2 separate regions of the Homo sapiens genome follow, and region 2 is reported to be linked to region 1. The links are microRNA targets in miRTarBase. Many come from high-throughput screens and were not tested one by one. Region 1 holds a microRNA gene; the other region holds the end of a gene's coding sequence.

The links. The annotated mature microRNA hsa-miR-7-5p reads UGGAAGACUAGUGAUUUUGUUGUU and lies in region 1 at 2,315-2,338, opposite strand. An mRNA with a match to its seed (bases 2 to 7 or 8) in the 3' UTR can be bound and repressed. Matches are read on the target gene's strand: a 7mer-m8 pairs with bases 2 to 8, a 7mer-A1 pairs with bases 2 to 7 and ends in A, and an 8mer does both.
Region 2: miRTarBase lists TMEM69 as a target of hsa-miR-7-5p. Seed matches in the 3' UTR shown: 7mer-m8 at 644-650.

The regions. Positions count from the first base shown.
Region 1 is chr19:4,769,836-4,773,037 of GRCh38, reverse strand. It overlaps MIR7-3 (microRNA 7-3), which reads right to left and starts at 2,368; the gene lies at 2,259-2,368. MIR7-3HG (MIR7-3 host gene) reads right to left here. Exons shown (of 3, transcript NR_027148.1): 3 at 482-874.
Region 2 is chr1:45,693,439-45,696,529 of GRCh38, forward strand. TMEM69 (transmembrane protein 69) reads left to right here. Exons shown (of 3, transcript NM_016486.4): 3 at 1-998. The coding sequence ends at 467. It also overlaps a transcript of IPP not described here. Among named protein-coding and RNA genes, the nearest start is that of TMEM69, 6.8 kb to the left of the region's middle.

The DNA of each region.
Region 1 (3,202 bases):
CCTCCTCCATTGAGGACCCCAGAAGGCAATATCTGTGTGCCTTTTCCTTTCTGAAAGACCTTGCATTCCCAGGGGGCAATTCTAAATAGACCAGGAAACCTCCCACAATTAGACCTAACCCAGACATTGAACCTCCCTCTGCTCAGCCCATTCATAAAGTGCCTCTGGCATTTAGGTGTCTTCTAATCTCATTTTCTCTGCTTGTTAATGGACCCACTGAGGCAGTACTCCTGGGAGAGAGAGAAAGATTTCATTTGTCTGGGGCTGAGGAGGGAGACGAGGGTTGCCAGAGCTAATGAGGAATCAGTGCCTTGTAATTGCTAATTAAATGAGCCTGGCTCTCTCTCTTGGGGCTGTGAGTTGGCTGGCCGGCCCTTAAGTGTCCACAAATTCAATTATGCTTCCCCAATAAACACCTCCAGCAACCATTGCCCTCCAGTATCTCTCTGGGGGAGACCTAGAAGAAGGATCTTCCTGTGTGTGCTGAGGCCATTCATTCATTTATTGATTGATGTATTGGTTTATTCTTTGATGCCTTTATTGATTCAACACATGCTTATTATATGCCTGCTGTGTGCCGGGCCCCGGACCAGGCGCTGGGGACACAGCAGTGAAAATACTAACATTGTTTCTGCCCTCACGGAGCTCACAGTGTAACAGGGAGACAAATAGACCTGTCAGTAGATAACATGAAAATAATTGGACTATGTGCTGCAGACACAATATCCCAGGTCTATGAGAATGTCAATACAGACTTCACGTGGGAAATGGTGAGGCAATAAGGATCGTTTCCCTTGATGAAATGGAGCTTGCAGAAGAAGGCAGGGTCAGTTGTGGGGAGCTCTGGTTGGAGGTGGAGGGAGTGCATTCCAAGCTGCAGGAACAGCAGAGGCAAAAGCCCTGAGGCTGGAGAACAGGTAACCATGTGCAGTTTTTCACTTGATTAGGGTGTTGCAGAGAATTGGGAGTGAGTCTTATATATTTATTTATTTATTTATTATTTTTTACTGAGATGAGGTCTTGCTATGTTGCCCAGGCTGGTCTCGAACTCCTGAGCTCAAGCTATCCTCCCACCTTGGCCTCCCAAAGTGCTGGGATTACAAGTGTGAGCCACCATGTCTGGCAAAGGTGGTGAGCCTTTATGATGTCATAAGTCACCACTGGGCACAAGTTCACACTTGTCCTATGATTGGCCCATGACACTGATGGGTAGCAGACAGGAAAGGAATCTTTTCTGAAACTTTTTTTTTGAAACAGGGTGTTGTTCTGTTGCCCAGTCTGGAGTGCAGTGGTGCAGTCATGGCTCACTGCAGCCTTGATCTCCCAGGCTCAAGTGTTCCTCCCACCTCCTAAGTAGTTGGGACTACAGGCATGTGTCAACTCACGGGGTCTCACTATATTGCCCAGGCTGGTCTCAAACTCCTGTACTCAAGCAATCCTCCCATCTCATCCTCCCAAAATGTTAGGATTACAGGTATGAGCTCCCACACCCAGCCCACTTCTGGAACTTTTATTGAAAAGTATCCTTAGGCTGGGTTCGGTGGCTCACACCTGTAATCTTGGCACTTTGAGAGGCTGAGGCAGGAGACCATGTCTTTACAAAAAAGAAAAAAAAAATGTTTTTTGAGACAGAATCTCTCTCTGTTGCCCAGGCTGGAGTGCAGTGGTGCAATCTTGGGTCATGCAGCCTCTGCCTCCTGGGTTCAAGGGATTCCCATGCCTCAGCCTCCCGAGTAGCTGGGACTACAGGTGTGTGCCACAACGCCCAGCTAATTTTTGTATTTTTAGGAGAAATGGAGTTTCACCATGTTGTCCAGGCTGGTCTTGAACTCCTGGCCTCAAGTGGTCCACCTGCCTTGGCCTCCCAAAGTGCTGGGATGACAGGCGTGAGCCACCCGGCCAAAAAAATAATAATTTTTTTTTTAATAGAAAAGTACCCTGAGAACTCTGGTCTAGGGAGGGCTTTAAATGTCATTCCCTCATTGGGTCTCCCAGGAAAGCGCCATAAGGTGGTTAGAGGTCTTGGGTTTAGAGTCAGGTATGTTCTATCTCCAGGCTTGTGGGGGCGTACGAGTGATGTGACAAACCCCATACATGGTGCATGGCTGTATGAGCACAGGATGTATGTCCTTGTTTGCTTCCCTCCTTTGCCTGTGCCTGTATCGCCTGGAGTGAGCCAGCCCCCCCACTCCGAGTGGAAGCGATTCTTCCCCGACCTCCCCGGTTCTCCCCCACTGGCCAGCCCATTGAAGGCGAAGGTCGAAGGGAGTCTGCGCTATGAGGCCGGCTGTGACTTGTTGTCGTAGTACATCAGAACAACAAAATCACTAGTCTTCCACACAGCACTAGACCACAGCCACTCTAATCTTCTTCACCACCCTCTGCCCCATGTCTGAGACCCCTGCCCAGCTCCTCCTTCTCACCTGAGCCAAGCTATGACACCTGAGTTTCCTGCCTCTGTGCTGCCTCCCTGTTTTCCATTCCCGGTTCTCCTGGAGAGAAGCAGGGTCTGATCTCCAAGGGCCCACCTCCCACCCAGGCACGTCAGAGACATGGGATTTGGAGTTGGACTGGTGGGGTTGACTTACAGCTTCACTTGTGGGCTGAGAGTCCCTGCGTGGGTTATTTTTCTGCCTTTCTCAGGGCCTTGGGTTCCCCAAATGTCACATGGGCACAGTAACACCCATGTCCTAGGGTTGAAGATGGCATGATATGATGTATGTAAAATGCTTGGCACAAGGTTTCTCACCGAAGTCTGGAAGAGACACCATAATGTCATCTTAGCAGGCAGCTGTTACCCCAGTGAGGTATCTTACCTGTTGAAAATTCCGGACTTGGGCCAGGCGCAGTGACTCACGCCTGTAATCCTAGCACTTTGGGAGGCTGAGGTGGACGGATGAAGAGGTCAAGAGTTTGAGACCAGCCTGGCCAACATGGTGAAACCCCGTCTCTACTAAGAATACAAAAATTAGCCGGGAGTGGTGGCATGTGCCTGTAATCCCAGATACTCGGGAGGCTGAGGCAGGAGAATCCCTTGAACCCAGGAGGCAGAGGTTGCAGTGAGCCGAGATCGTGCCACTGCACTCCAGCCTGGGCGACAGAGCAAGACTCCGTCTCGAAAAAAAAAGAAAATTGCAGACTTCTGTGTGTGCTTATCTGGAAAATACTTTGTTTAAAAATCCATTACATGAGGTGCAGGTCT
Region 2 (3,091 bases), not on the chromosome of region 1:
GCCCAAAGCCAGCATTATGTGTAACTCTGGCAGGACTAATCCCCTTCGTTGCTCCACCACTGGTCATGCTGATGACAAAAACTTATATTCCCATATTAGCTTTTACTCAGATGGCTTATGGAGCCAGTTTCCTATCTTTCTTGGGTGGGATCAGATGGGGTTTTGCTCTACCAGAAGGTAGTCCAGCCAAACCAGACTACCTTAATTTAGCTAGCAGTGCAGCTCCTCTTTTCTTTTCATGGTTTGCCTTCCTTATTTCTGAAAGACTTAGTGAAGCCATAGTCACAGTAATAATGGGTATGGGAGTAGCATTCCACCTTGAACTTTTTCTCTTACCACATTATCCCAACTGGTTTAAAGCCCTGAGGATAGTAGTCACTTTATTGGCCACTTTTTCATTTATAATCACTTTAGTAGTTAAAAGTAGTTTTCCAGAAAAAGGACATAAGAGACCTGGTCAAGTATAAAAAATATAAAAGTCTGGGAAGTGAGGAGCACCTCTGCCCAGCTGCTGCCCCGTCTGGGAAGTGAGGAGCGCCTCTGCCTGGCCGCCTGACCATCTGGGAAGTGTGACAAGCGCCTCTGCCCGGCCGCTGTGCAACCTTCCACGTGTGAAGTGACAGCCTTGTGTGTGATCTTTTCTGTCTTCCCCAAGTTTGCATTTTCGACATTAAAGTTTACTTTTTAGTTAAAAGTTTTAAAAATATATATATATAAATACACTGTAGATAACATTTGTATGCCAGCTACACCTTTTTCTACTTCTGTTTGGCTTTTTTTCCCCACACCAATGGTAATTTATCTTCACAGATTGTTCTTCATTTCTAGAAATTGTTACTTCATGGTAATTACTTGAGCAAAAGCTTGAAAATCCCTGACAAGTACTTTTCATCTCATAGTATATTAGTTTTCACTCAGTCATTTTATGAATAATATAGTTATCCACTTAAACATTTCAATATTTTAACCATCTTGAAAATTAAAGATTAAAAATCCCCTTTGTTAGAGTCTTGTGATCATTGAAAAGAATGCACATATTCTCCCACTTCAAGCGGAAAACCTCGTATCTGTGAGTATCTGAAAAGAAAAGGTAGTTCCATTGAGTTTTCACAGGAGTTACCACTGGGAAAGGCATGTCCAAACTTATTTCACATGGTATAACCCAATTATATGAGCTAAAAGGATCTATGGCTCTAAAGTCAGTAGGGAGCAGTGTCATGAGGGAAAGCCACATTCAAAGGTAAGTTGGACATGTTTTCCAGTTTTTATTAGGATATTTGGCATGGTACAGATAACAACTTGTCCCTTACCACCAAACACATAATAGCTGGTCAAAATGATTATTTTCAAAGGAAACTATTTAAAATAAAGCCACTAGTACATATAAATTAGGAAAGAAAAGTCAAGCTGGAGCCATCTTGATATTCTAATGAGCAGGCCTATCTAGTTCTACATCTTTTTTTTTGAGATGGAGTTTCATTCTGTCGCCTAGGCTGGAGTGCAGTGGCACGATCTTGGCTCACCGCAACCTCCACCTCCCGAGTTCAAGCGATTCTCCTGCCTCAGCATCTCTAGAGTAGCTGGGATTATAGGCACGTGCCACCATGCCCAACTAATTTTTTGGTGTGTATTTTTAGTAGAGGTGGCATTTCACCATGTTGGACAGGCTGGTCTAGTTCTACATCTTTTAAATCACAGAGAAGCTTTTAGCTTTGGTGTGTTTTTGTTTTTGTTTTGTTTTGTTTAAACGCAGGGTCTCACTCTTGCTCAGGCCAGAGTGTAGTGGTGTGGTCATGGCTCACTGCAGCCTCGACCTCCTGGGCTCAAGCAATTCTCCCACCTCAGCCTCCTGAGTAGCTGGGACTACAGTTGTGCACCACTATGCCAAGCTAATTTTTTAATTTTTTGTAGAGACAGGGTCTCCCTATGTTGCCCAGGCTGGTCTTGAACTGAGCTCAAGCAATCCTCCTGCCTAGGCTCCCAAAGTGTTAGGATTGCAGGCGTGAGCCACTGCACCCAGTGCAGAAGCTTTCTTAAAACAGCAAAAGCAACACCTTAGATTTTCACTTGAAAACGTAGTCTCTAATCACTCTACTTAAGGTGGAGAAAAAAAGAATTAACAGAAAACCTAGTTTTCTGAAATTCCTAGTCTCACCAAAAAGGAAAAACATTAAAAATGGTCTAAGGATTAAAAATGGTCTAAGGATATAGATCAGGATATAGTATAACCTGGAATTTTTTTTTTTTTTAGATGGAGTTTCACTCTTGTTGCCCAGGCTGGAGTGCAATGGCGCTATCTCGGCTCACCGCAACCTCCGCCTCCCGTGTTGAAGCGATTCTCCTGCCTCAGCCTCCCGAGTACCTGGGATTACAGGCATGCGCCACCATGCCCAGCTAATTTTGTATTTTTAGTAGAGACAGGGTTTCTCCATGTTGGTCAGGCTGGTCTCAAACTCCCAACTTCAGGTGACCCACCCACCTTGGCCTCCCAAAATTCTGGGATTACAGACATGAGCCACCGTGCCCGGCCTGTATATTTTTTAGAGATGATGTTTCCACTCAGTCTCAATCTGATTCTACTCAGATTGTTTTGATAAGGAAACTCACTTCTTTGTTATTAAATTGCATGAATGCTATACAAATTTAAGACTTTTCCATAATCTGAATTAAATGAATTATTTTCCAGAATAGAGGCAAATCATATTTTTAGGCTAATTGCCTAATTTTACTTAAAAATGCTATTTTTCCAGGTGAATTACAGTGTATGCTTCTTTAAGAAAACTGATTTTTAAGTACATTTGATTAAGTACATTGGCAGGATACTTAGAAGCATATCGGATTGTTAAACATTTTGGAGGTAGATCACTTTAATCATTTCTCAAAAAACAGAATTAAATGTAAAATGAAATGTGCAAGTCCTTAAAGTTAAAACAAAACCAACTAAAAAACTTGTGCAATCCTACTACAGTTTGGTAACCCAGAATGCCACTGATAAAGTAATACAAAGAAACAAAAAAACTAGATACTTTATTAGTACATTCTTTTAAAAACAATCTTGTTAGCCTGGTGAGGTGGCTCATGCCTGTAATCC